4 separate regions of the Homo sapiens genome follow, and all the other regions are reported to be linked to region 1. The links are microRNA targets in miRTarBase. Many come from high-throughput screens and were not tested one by one. Region 1 holds a microRNA gene; each other region holds the end of a gene's coding sequence.
What was found. Region 1 holds the annotated microRNA hsa-miR-5094 (AAUCAGUGAAUGCCUUGAACCU, at 2,217-2,238, shown strand). A microRNA usually pairs through its seed, bases 2 to 8, with sites in the 3' UTR of a target mRNA and lowers its output. Matches are read on the target gene's strand: a 7mer-m8 pairs with bases 2 to 8, a 7mer-A1 pairs with bases 2 to 7 and ends in A, and an 8mer does both.

Region 2: the mRNA of PIGM is a reported target of hsa-miR-5094. The part of its 3' UTR that is shown has no 7-base or 8-base seed match.
Region 3: the mRNA of MATCAP1 is a reported target of hsa-miR-5094. Seed matches in the 3' UTR shown: 7mer-m8 at 1,832-1,838.
Region 4: the mRNA of ABCD2 is a reported target of hsa-miR-5094. The part of its 3' UTR that is shown has no 7-base or 8-base seed match.

Annotation. Positions count from the first base shown.
Region 1 is chr15:89,849,744-89,852,927 of GRCh38, reverse strand. It overlaps MIR5094 (microRNA 5094), which reads left to right and starts at 2,207; the gene lies at 2,207-2,291. All of the region lies in intron 8 of ARPIN-AP3S2 (ARPIN-AP3S2 readthrough), which reads left to right. The region is part of intron 4 of AP3S2 (adaptor related protein complex 3 subunit sigma 2); the gene reads left to right. RefSeq lists an enhancer at 1,162-1,211.
Region 2 is chr1:160,027,808-160,030,991 of GRCh38, reverse strand. It overlaps PIGM (phosphatidylinositol glycan anchor biosynthesis class M), which reads left to right. Exons shown (of 1, transcript NM_145167.3): 1 at 1-3,184. The coding sequence ends at 524. Among named protein-coding and RNA genes, the nearest start is that of PIGM, 2.6 kb to the left of the region's middle.
Region 3 is chr16:67,174,220-67,177,219 of GRCh38, forward strand. It overlaps MATCAP1 (microtubule associated tyrosine carboxypeptidase 1), which reads right to left. Exons shown (of 7, transcript NM_001040715.2): 7 at 1,380-2,756. The coding sequence ends at 2,592. NOL3 (nucleolar protein 3) reads left to right here. Exons shown (of 4, transcript NM_001276309.3): 2 at 1-245; 3 at 402-725; 4 at 828-1,518. The coding sequence ends at 835. Among named protein-coding and RNA genes, the nearest start is that of NOL3, 5.2 kb to the left of the region's middle. RefSeq lists an enhancer at 1-208 and silencers at 106-365, 1,739-2,168.
Region 4 is chr12:39,551,215-39,554,214 of GRCh38, forward strand. ABCD2 (ATP binding cassette subfamily D member 2) reads right to left here. Exons shown (of 10, transcript NM_005164.4): 10 at 1-2,917. The coding sequence ends at 2,698. Among named protein-coding and RNA genes, the nearest start is that of ABCD2, 67 kb to the right of the region's middle.

The DNA of each region.
Region 1 (3,184 bases):
TCACCTCTTGCTTTGAACTTTACACTCCAGTGATACTGAACTATTTTTGTAACTTGTGTTTAGGGATGTTACAGCTTTGGAAGTCTTTGAGCCAGCATGTAAAGGGCGAGCAGGTGGACTGGGGCACAGGGCTGTTCCATGGGCAGTGATTTAGAAGGAGCAGGAACTGTGGGGATGGAGATGGTCTCCTTAGAAACAGTTTTATGGGATCTAGGTGTGGCATTTGGACTTTTTTTCTTTTTTTGTTTTATGGCCAAATTGTGCTTCACTTATCTGCCTGCCTATGTGGTTGCCTTAGGCAGAGTGATAGAATCCCAGGGTAGAGGGCAGGGACTTACTCTGTGTTGCTCCAGAAGACACAGGTAGGATCGGGGGTGGAAATTATTTGATGCTTGTTGTAGCTCAGTACAGTTAAAAACTCTCTGACAGTTGTTGCTGCTCAACAGCCCACTGAGCAGCTTGGAAACAGTAGTGAGCTCTCTTCATGGAGGCGAAGGATCTGTCACCAGAGTGAAGGATCTATACTGTTGCAGGAGCCAAAGAACAGAATCCTGCACTGGGAAAGAGGTTGGTCAAGATGACTTTGATTATAACTACCAAATTAACCAACATCCGAGTACTTACTAAGAACTAGGCACGTAATAGATAGCTAAGTGCTTTATATACAGTGTCTCATTTATTTCCTACATCATCTTTTTTAATCTTTAGAATAAGCCTGGCAGCTAAGAACTCTGGTTCTCCCCATTTTACAGATGAAGAAACTGAGGTTTATTGGTAGGAAGCCTCAGTTTCTCTAAGGTCACACAGCTGGTAAGTGATAGAGCCACATTCAGATCCTGGACTCTGATTATGGACCCGCTCCCTCTACACTCTGCAATGCTGCCTGTAGTATTCCCGCCTGCTTTGACATCCTAAATGTGGGGAAATGTGTTTGTGTCATGTTTTCTTAGCAGATAAGCAACCAAGGAAGGATGAAATTCAAAAGGACAAGGTCTGGATCTTTTTCTGTACTTAGCACTGTGCTTGGCATTTGGGATCAGCAGTGCAAACAGGTAGTAGCCAAAGGAGGATGAAACACTGGGTTAGAAAGAAAAAGTCCTGCTAGAACATTAAAAAAAAAAAAAATGATTTCACGGAGAACCCTGACTCATAATAGGAACTGGTTTTTTTAAAAAAGGAAGTAATAATATGTAGTGAGTATACTTTACTGCAGTCAACTATATATATTCAAAGAGCATAAAATATGAAGCCAGTGAGTGAGTGATCCTTTTATTAATTAAAAAAGAAGTTGAGTTGGGCGCGGTGGCTCATGCCTGTAATCCCAGCACTTTGGGAGGCCGAGTTGGGCAGATCACAAGGTCAGGAGTTCAAGATCAGCCTGGCCAACATAGTGAAACCCTATCTCTACTAAAAATAGAAAAATTAGCCAGGCGTGGTGGCACATGCCTGTAATCATAGTTACTCAGGAGGCTGAGGCAGGAGAATTGCTTGAACGCAGGAGGCGGAGGTTGCAGTGAGCTGAGATCGCACCACTGCACTCCAGCCTGGGGGACAGAGCAAGACTCTGTCTCAAAAAAAAAAAAAGAAGATGAATTAGTAGAGCATGAAGAATAATGAATGAGTTGCTAGGTAATTTGCCATTCCCTCTGCCTGGATGCCTTTTCCTCCAATTGCCAGTTAGTTTTAAGGCCACCCTTCTCTGAAATAACATAGTACTTTGTACTTGGGTCATGGTATTTATCACAGACTTCCTTTTATTATAGTTAATTCTGTACATGTTTAATCTTTCTTACTTGATTCTAAGCTCTTTAAGGACAGGGTCCACATCTTATCTTCATTTCCTTCTTCCAGCTCTTAACAATCTGTGATGTTAAGCATATTTGAAAATAGACATTGTTAGAGATTATGTTCTTTTAGTGAAAAATCGGCCAGGTGCTGTAATCCCAGCACTCTGGGAGGTTGAAACAGAAGGATTGCTTGAGCCCAGGAGTTTGAGATCAGCCTGGGTAACATGGTGAAACCCTGTCTCTACAAAAAATACAAAAATTAGCTGGGTGTGGTGATGCAGGTCTGTGGTCCCAGCTACTCTGGAGGCTGAGGTGGGATCACTTGAGCCTGGGAGGCCATGGCTGCAGTGAGCCATGATCACGCCTCTGCTCTGCAGCTTGAGTGATAGTGACAGAGCAAGACCCTGTCTCAAAAAAAAAAAAGAAAAAAATCAGTGAATGCCTTGAACCTAACACACTGCCTTTTATGTGGTAGGTACAGTGGGCTCACTGAAACATTCAACTTGTTCAACTCTATCCATTTGTCCAAAAACAAAAAGGAAATGAAAAATTCTAAATACAGTACGAATATGCCCTCAATTCTACTTAATTAGTATATGTCTGGAATGAGTGTGACATGGAAGATTTGAATCTGCTCTTCTTTGCCTCTGCTCTCATGTGCCTGTGCTCATGTGTATCGTAGAGTGCTTAGAGTGATTCTAATGCTTAAAACAAATTTTCAATCTCTGTGGCCCCTAAACCAGCCAGCCGTTTCATCTGATGTGTAAGACAAGGCTCCACTGGATTCATTCATTGCCCACTGAAACAATGTATGATCCTGTGAGTGAAAGAGAGAAAGAAATCAATGGCTAGGGATTGAATGTCTTGTGGAATTTTATGACAAGAAGACATCTAGGGAAAACCATGGAAATGTCCAGTCTGAAGATCAAACAGTTCATAAAAGTGATTCAGAAGACACTAAGAGCAGGTGAAAGGGAAAAACAGAACTTTACAAAGCAAAGTTGCTTTCTTGGCTTGCTTTCTTCAGAGCTGCTTAGGACCAGACAGCTCTATGTGCCTGAGAGTTCCTGAAGGAATCTTAGCATTAAAATACAATTTACCATGAAATACTATGCAGCCATAAAAAAAGGATGAGTTCATGTCCTTTGCAGGGACATGGATAAAGCTGGAAACCACCATTCTCAGCAAACTAACACAAGAACAGAAAACCAAACACGACATGTTTTCACTCATAAATGGCAGTTGAACAATGAGAACACATGGGCACAGGGAGGGGACCATCACACAACAGCACCTCTCGGGGGTAGGGGGCTAGGAGAAGGGTAGCATTAGGAGAAATACCTAATGTAGATGACCAGTTGATGGGTGCAACAAACCACCATGGCACGTGTATAGCT
Region 2 (3,184 bases), not on the chromosome of region 1:
GCTGGGAATTTTTGGAACACACCTACTTTTATCACCTGACTAGGCGGGATATCCGTCACAACTTTTCTCCGTACTTCTACATGCTGTATTTGACTGCAGAGAGCAAGTGGAGTTTTTCCCTGGGAATTGCTGCATTCCTGCCACAGCTCATCTTGCTTTCAGCTGTGTCTTTCGCCTATTACAGAGACCTCGTTTTTTGTTGTTTTCTTCATACGTCCATTTTTGTGACTTTTAACAAAGTCTGCACCTCCCAGTACTTTCTTTGGTACCTCTGCTTACTGCCTCTTGTGATGCCACTAGTCAGAATGCCTTGGAAAAGAGCTGTAGTTCTCCTAATGTTATGGTTTATAGGGCAGGCCATGTGGCTGGCTCCTGCCTATGTTCTAGAGTTTCAAGGAAAGAACACCTTTCTGTTTATTTGGTTAGCTGGTTTGTTCTTTCTTCTTATCAATTGTTCCATCCTGATTCAAATTATTTCCCATTACAAAGAAGAACCCCTGACAGAGAGAATCAAATATGACTAGTGTATGTTCCACACCCTCTGCTACTGTGTTACATTCTGATTGTCTTGTATGGACCAGAAGAGAGCTTTGGGACATTTTTTCTGAACATTCTAAGCATTCTAGTGAAAGTTCCCATGTTCCAACAGAACTTAAAAGCAATGTTTGCCTTATATATAAAAGGGACACAATAATTGAGGTCCACCTTCTAGGAAATCCTAGGACTCGTTTATTTGGGACATGGTGGGAATAAAGGTCACATATTGGAAAATGGAAAGGCTGATGAAACTATCAGATACTAAAACATTCTTAAAATAGAGGAATATAGTTAGAGACATCAGGTTTAAGCCAGTATTTGTTCCTGTTTTACAATGCTTCTGTCTTAAGCTGTGTCTTAACTTTTAACACCCATCTTTTCTTTCTAAAGCTTTCCTGACAGCTGTGAAAATCCAAAAAATATTCTTAAACTGTGTATGGTGGCCCTTGCCTGTAGTCTCAGCACTTTGGGAGGCTGAGGTGGGAGGGTCGCTTGAGTTCAGGAGTTCTAGACCCACCTGGGGCAAGATGGTGAGACCTAGTCTCAAAAAAAAAAAAAAAAATTAGCCAGGTGTTGTGGTGCACCCCTGTAGTCATAGCTGCATGGGAGGCTGAGGTGGGAGAATTGCTTGAGCCCAGAGCAAGACCCTGTCTCAAAAAAAAAAAAAAAAAAAAAAAGGAAAGGACAACTTTTTAGATAGAAAAGTATTAAATAATACTAAGATGCTTAGTAGTATTATTTTAGAGAGTTTTAAACTTCTATATTAAATGTGGGGTCTTACAAGATAATCCAAAGACTTTGGGAGGCCAAGGCGGGCAGATCACGAGGTCAGGAGATTGAGACCATCCTGGCTAACACGGTGAAACCCCTCTCTACTAAAAATACAAAAAATTAGCCGGGCGTGGTGGGTGCCTGTAGTCCCAGCTACTCCTCGGGAGGCTGAGGCAGGAGAATGGCGTGAACTCCGGAGGTGGAGCCTGTAGTGAGCCGAGATGGCACCACTGCGCTCCAGCCTGGGCGACAGAGCAAGACTCCATATCAAAAAAAAAAAAAAAAAAAGATAATCCAAAGAATTTAAATTGTAATCATGTTTCATGTATTTGTTTTATTACTTACTTTTATAGCACTTAGTCCCAGTGGTATTAGACTGCTATTTGGTTTCATACAAAAAGGATTAAATTTAAATTCATTCATGTTTAGACTTGAGTTATTACATTTTTAAAACTATCATCTTGCCTTTAATGTTTGTGGTCCTACACAAACTATTAGTACATTTCAGTATCCTCTTACCCCTTTGTTTTTAAGTTTTTGATTGCTAAAGCAAGACTTTTTTCTTCTAGAATTTAAGTCAACCAAGTGTTATCTATGTTGTAAAAATGGATAATAGTAGATTTTAGGTGATAAAACAACTTGTTAGTAAGACATTTCCTAGCTTAAAAAAAAAAATCAAAAATTCCATGATAGAAATGCAGACCTGTGAGGGAAACTCCTGAAAAGCATAAGAAGCATCCCAGAGAGCCATGGGTTTTCTAGACCAGAGAATTTAGAGGGAGATTGTGGAACTGAGGCTTAGGTGGTCAGATCGTTTCCCTTATCACTGTAATATTTCTGGGGGAAAAATGCTTTCTGAGTTGTTTAAACAAGCATCCTTACATTTTTTTTTTTAATTAAACAGCCTGTCTAGGCTTGGGATTCCCTAATACTACAGTAGCAGTATATGAATATGATTTTGTGATTGTGTTTTTTAAAAGATAAGTAATTTGATGAACTGTTCTTTTGCAGTCAGAAAACACTCACAAAAAGACAAAAAAAGTTCCACAGTATTATATTTCATGTCAGTTCAGGCCTAAAATCCTTTGCAAATAAGATGTTTATAGGCTGGTCACAATTAACAATGTTATTATTGGCAGCACTTCTTGGATGGATACCTTTTGGGACCTTTCATTAGAAAGAGGGAAAGAATGGGGTGGTTTTGTATGGGCTCCTGTTTGGGGTAAAAATAGCAGAGTCAGTTGCTGAGGACAATGACCTTCCTTATAACATTTAGTTTCATACCCATATTAGGTCTTGTCTTGAGGACCCTTTATATGTGCTTGTTTACTAGTGGCCTTCCAGCCATAGCATTCTTACCTTTTTTTCCTATTCTAAGAATTAAAAAAAAAAATTATAGAGCCAGCAAGGGAGGAGGCAGGAAACAGAAATCGAATTTCATCATTCCAGTATAGTTGTCCCTTTTTTTGTATTTCTGACTTGGTTTTATAATTATATTTACTTACTAATTATTGTTTTTTAACATTCTTTATTGTGGCTTACTCTTCATACTTAGAATTGAAATTGTTGGACATCACATGTATATTCACATTATAAATACATCATTCTTCCACTGTTAGACCTTTAGATTGCTTCCAGTTTTTAATATTCTAAATAAGACTTTCAACATTTTCTGTGTTTTAGCTCATTCTCTTAGGACATTCTTAGAAGTTAGAAACATTTCTGCTGGGATCGTTGGAGGGAACTTCAAACTTTGGAATCTTTCCTGCAAGAAATTCTTTACCAAAGAAAGGCAGGTGTTTCTTAAAGGGATGCAAAAGATATTTTGCACTTTGTATGTTCCAAAACATTTAGTAAGTTAACTAAAAAAATGAGT
Region 3 (3,000 bases), not on the chromosome of region 1:
ACGCCTGGTCGAGACGCTGCAGGCGGACTCGGGACTGCTGTTGGACGCGCTGCTGGCGCGGGGCGTGCTCACCGGGCCAGAGTACGAGGCATTGGATGCACTGCCTGATGCCGAGCGCAGGGTGCGCCGCCTACTGCTGCTGGTGCAGGGCAAGGGCGAGGCCGCCTGCCAGGAGCTGCTACGCTGTGCCCAGCGTACCGCGGGCGCGCCGGACCCCGCTTGGGACTGGCAGCACGTGGGTCCGGGTGAGCGCGCGGGGCGGGGCCTAGGGCAGAGCAGGGACGGGGCTGGGGCAGACAAAAGGCCCGGGGAGGGCAGGGTTGTCGTCTCCGCTAGAAGTAGGCGAGTGTGAAACCGCACAGGGGTAAATTGAGCCTCAGTCACTCCCACTTCCGCCCCAGGCTACCGGGACCGCAGCTATGACCCTCCATGCCCAGGCCACTGGACGCCGGAGGCACCCGGCTCGGGGACCACATGCCCCGGGTTGCCCAGAGCTTCAGACCCTGACGAGGCCGGGGGCCCTGAGGGCTCCGAGGCGGTGCAATCCGGGACCCCGGAGGAGCCAGAGCCAGAGCTGGAAGCTGAGGCCTCTAAAGAGGCTGAACCGGAGCCGGAGCCAGAGCCAGAGCTGGAACCCGAGGCTGAAGCAGAACCAGAGCCGGAACTGGAGCCAGAACCGGACCCAGAGCCCGAGCCCGACTTCGAGGAAAGGGACGAGTCCGAAGGTGTGAGTCCGCCCAAACCCTGAGCCGGCTTGGCGGGAGGGCATGGCCTGGGAAGCGGATGCCGGACCCCACCTCTTTGACCACTGTTCCCGTCATCTCTAGATTCCTGAAGGCCAGAGCTCTGACAGGCGGTGCCCCGCCCATGCTGGATAGGACCTGGGATGCTGCTGGAGCTGAATCGGATGCCACCAAGGCTCGGTCCAGCCCAGTACCGCTGGAAGTGAATAAACTCCGGAGGGTCGGACGGGACCTGGGCTCTCTCCACGATTCTGGCTGTTTGCCCAGGAACTTAGGGTGGGTACCTCTGAGTCCCAGGGACCTGGGCAGGCCCAAGCCCACCACGAGCATCATCCAGTCCTCAGCCCTAATCTGCCCTTAGGAGTCCAGGCTGCACCCTGGAGATCCCAAACCTAGCCCCCTAGTGGGACAAGGACCTGACCCTCCTGCCCGCATACACAACCCATTTCCCCTGGTGAGCCACTTGGCAGCATATGTAGGTACCAGCTCAACCCCACGCAAGTTCCTGAGCTGAACATGGAGCAAGGGGAGGGTGACTTCTCTCCACATAGGGAGGGCTTAGAGCTCACAGCCTTGGGAAGTGAGACTAGAAGAGGGGAGCAGAAAGGGACCTTGAGTAGACAAAGGCCACACACATCATTGTCATTACTGTTTTAATTGTCTGGCTTCTCTCTGGACTGGGAGCTCAGTGAGGATTCTGACCAGTGACTTACACAAAAGGCGCTCTATACATATTATAATATATTCGCTTACTAAATGAATAAGGACTTTCCAACTGCGTTTCTGAGTTTTACAGATGGGAAAACTAAGGCCAAAGGATAGGAGTGGGGTTCACACAGCTAAGTCTGAAGGGAAACTGGAAGCAGCAACCACCTCTGCACCTCACCTGGTCTAAGAGGGGTTCAGGACTTGGGCCACCAAACTCTAGGGCCTGTCCCTCAGGTGCAATTGCAGCTGCTCCTAGGCTATGCCAACCTCTGCCAGAGAGCAGCTGTGAGGGTGTGAGCAAAGACAGGAACAGCAGAGGCCAGTGGAGGGAGTGGGGAACAGGGCCAAGGGAGCTCTTGGGCTTGACTCTCAAGGCCTGAATCAGTGTGTGTGTGTGTGTGTGTGTGTGTGTGTGTGTGTGTGTGTGTGTGTGTGTGTGTGTGTGTGTGTAATGGGAGTGGGGCTGGGAAAATTGGTGCCTTCCAAGAAGGAGTGTCCTGTCCAACCCCCCGCACCCCCACGGAACCTTCAGGAGCTGCTGCTCCCAGCCACAGGAAGTAGACCATATAAATATGGAATAAATACATGACCAGTGAGAGAGGCAAAATGTCGGAAAGCAGACCCCAGGCCAGCTGGGTCTCTACTACCAGGACCCCAGGCTCAGGCCATCAATCACCCCAGGAGAAGGGAGCCCGACCCCCACCAGGACCCAGTGAGAGGTAGACAGCACAAATGCTGAAGGAGCACCAAGGGGCCAGGTAAGGGAAGGGAGAGACTGGAGTACTGGGACAACCAAAGCCATCTCATGCAAGAACAAGTTTCTATTCCCAAACCACCCCCATCCCCATCAATGCTCAGCTCTCTTCCTGCCCCCATGCCTTCCCTCTGCTCAACAGAGAGCTGGAGGCAGGAGGGCGACTCAGTTTGCCAGACATGCTGCTGCAGGTCCCCAGACCCCAGGGAGGCTGGCAAGGGACACAAACACTTTGATGTTGCCACTCCTCCTCAAGGAATGCTCCTGCCCTCCCAACACCCCCAAGAAACACCTAGGCCGTGGACGCACAGAGCAAACTGCTTCATGTTCTAGGGGCCTATCTGGAGCTTCTGTCCAGGGCCTCTGACTGCAGCCCTCAACGGACATCAGTCGGGTAGCAGGCGACCCAGCTCCGCCTCATCCAGCCGGTTGGTGGCCATGATGTGCTCCAGCTGCTGCCGGTAGCGTGCCAAGTCCTGCATGAAGTGGGGCACCCGGGTATTATCCAGCACCCCATGGGGCCGCAGGTGGTCCACATCCTCATAGGACACCTGCAGGAGGAAGCCGGGCATCAGGCATAGGCAGTGGCCCCTGGCTTTCAGGTAGCTGGTCCCAGCCCACTGCTTACAGCTCACAGCCTTTGCTCCGGGACTTCTTCCTCTCCCCTCCTGATCCACAATTAGCTACAACGTTTTATACCTCTAGACTCAATCCTTCATCTTTGCCCTTTCTCTCAACAGTTTCTTTTTGTCATAGATGCCCTACAACCCCACTTCTCTCTCCAGCCCAGCCTCT
Region 4 (3,000 bases), not on the chromosome of region 1:
AGAATCCAACTTATTTTTCAAGTTTAAGAGTTAACCTAAAGAATGCACATTTTAAACTCAAGCTCCATAAACTTATAGCTTTTTGTTTGACCAAAAATATGTCAAACGTTTGGGCAAATAGATATAACATGGTAAAAGTAGTTTGAAACTTGAAATATTCTTTCTTTTTTCCTTTCCTCATCTATCCCTTGCTGTATTCAAAAATGGCTAGTTTCTCAGTCTTTTTCATGTTTTCCGTAAAATATAAGAGTAGTAAAATATGGTATACCCATTGGACCATTTGGAAACAATTGAATGGTACATAAATACAAGTTCAAATCAGAGATGTTTTCCCTTCCAAGTTAAGGATGTTGGTCCTGAAAAATAAATTCAGAAAACAAATAGGCACAAAAAGCTCATGGAAAACATGTGCATATTAGAACTTTAACATTTAAATTACAGTGTACATAGTTTTTAATACAGAATTTTAGGCATCTTTGAATCCTGTGCATCATAAATAATGAGTCTTTTTTGCTTTAGCTCATGGGTAAAATATATTAAATACTGACTAATTACAAATCTAATATTTGTTTTGGCATTCTTTTCAATGTTTCAAAACAAAATTATCAGGTTGTTTTAAAATTATGTTTTATTTTTATATTATGAAAATTAAGGCATGAAAATTATACACATCTTTCACATGAGGATTTTTCATTTTCTTCTTGTACCTTTAAAAGTTAACTTAAAACACTTGCCTCAGACTTTTGCCCTTGTAGCAGTATAAACTGGATAATCACTTATGTAGAAAAGATTAATGAATAATTTTTAGCAAGTTTAAGTTTTGGTTCCATGCTTCTTAAAAAAAAATCTTTAATTCCTGCCTCACTTTTCTAACAGGAAATATTAGTAACTGATGAATAAGTAGGTGATAATACTAATGAAAACGTTGGACAAATGTACTGATTATAATTTTATATTGCATTCCTTCATGTAAGTTGGTTACATTTATTGAAAATTAAAAATACACTAGCTATCATGGCAGAATTGAAAATGTAGAAATGTTATGATGTTCTATAACGATCATTATGAATGACTTCCAGGTACTCTATCACCTGAAAAGTCTAAGAATCACAGACTTAACATCTATTATGGCTGTGTCTCAACAGGCAAATAAAATCCTAGGCCACTAACAACTGATCATTCCAATATTCTTCTGGTATGTCAATGTGGTATCACAGGCAGCAAGAGATAAAGTTTCAGTCTTGGCTTTCCAGCTCCAGTGCACACAAATAGAATAAAATCTATTTCATATGACTAGTCCATATAGATTATTTCTCATTATGTTCAATAAATATTAACTTTACCAAAACCATAATTATTTGCCCTTCTCATTGCTAATGCCTTAGAGGTACATTAATATTGAGTAAGACTGCATAGTTGCTGAATGATTTACTAACTTTCTCATTTCATTTTAAGCCGCAGAACAATGATCTTTGCACTTTGTACTTAATTTTCATTTCTTGTAAACAATAACCAAATAACAATAAGACTAACATTATGAAATTTATTTTATTTTCTACACTTCGTCTAACTTTTATTGCTATTATAGCCCAGTTTGATTTAAAGGATAATAACAAAAGAGCACTAAACCAGAGAGTCAGGAGAACTTCATTTGATTTCTCGATCTTTCCTTAAGTAAAGTGCATGATTAGGGCAAGTCTGAGTGTCAATTTTCTCAAAAGCAAAGTAGGAAAAATAGTATTTGTTTCAAAACATTGTCATCAACATTAAGGTGAAATGATGTAAATGGGGATTGTAAATTATAAAGTACTATTCCAATGTATGTTATTACTATGATTCTCAGAATCCTTAAGTTCCTTTATACCATTGCAGTTCTTAAAATGTAGACTCATCCTTGGGCAAAAAAACAAGCTGTGTATTTCTGAACAGAAGTTGCAATAGGTAATTCTGCTAAGGAAATTATCAGGTTGAGACATTGTTTGGATACTCCTTTTCTGTATTGGCAATTCTCTTTTTAAAATGAAAGGATTTATTAAAAATATTTAAGATTTGTACTAAAATTAATTTGTTATATGCCCTCATTAAGATGCTTAAAGTCCAAAATTTAAAAATATGGCATTTTATACATTTTAGCCATGCTTTTTTCTTTCAACAAATGCCATTAAAACAATTTTTATATTGAAATTATTTATAAAACTGTCAGCTATTTTGTACAGGTTTAGTTGGCCACTAGCAATAATCAATTTGAATTCTAGCTATTAAACCTAATATCAACCATAAATGGACTAAATGTCACTCAAAGTTTGAATCTTATGCACTTGGTATCAACCCAAATGCTGCTCAGTTTAACTTGTTTCATTTCCAGAATATTGCCCATGTTTGTTAAGAACTTCAGACACACCACATATACATAGTAAATCTGGTATTCATCATGAATTCACCTAGAAAATCCTGTTTTACAAGTGCATTAGGCCTTCACTAGGAATTAGTATAAGTCATAATGACTGACCTTACATAATGCATTTGTTTATTTTCTTCTGAAAAGTCAGATCATATACTTCCTTAATGCTAAAATCTTATAAAACATGTCTTGCTGCCTTTTTTTCTCTGTGCTTAGCTTAACATACTTCATGCAGTATAACAGAATGTCTTTGAGCCTTTATCTAATAATTAACTTTTAAAATATGTCAAAACAAATTAAGATGTCTCATCTTCATTTTTAATTGTTTTCAGCACTGAGTCTTCTCCCAAAATTTTACATAGTTCATTGAGTCTCTGCTGCATTTTGGGAATTCCAGCTAGCTGAGATTCTAGCTTTTGTTTTTCTTCACTCAATGTCAAACGGATAGCAGTATCCAATTGTTCAAAGCGCCAACCTCCTTCACCATCAAACTGTAATAAATGTGTGTGGTATTTCCTGCATAATTAAAATGAAATAATATTATTAGCCATAATGTTGAAAAATCATTTTAGTTGTAGGTTTATCATTCAAATTGATAC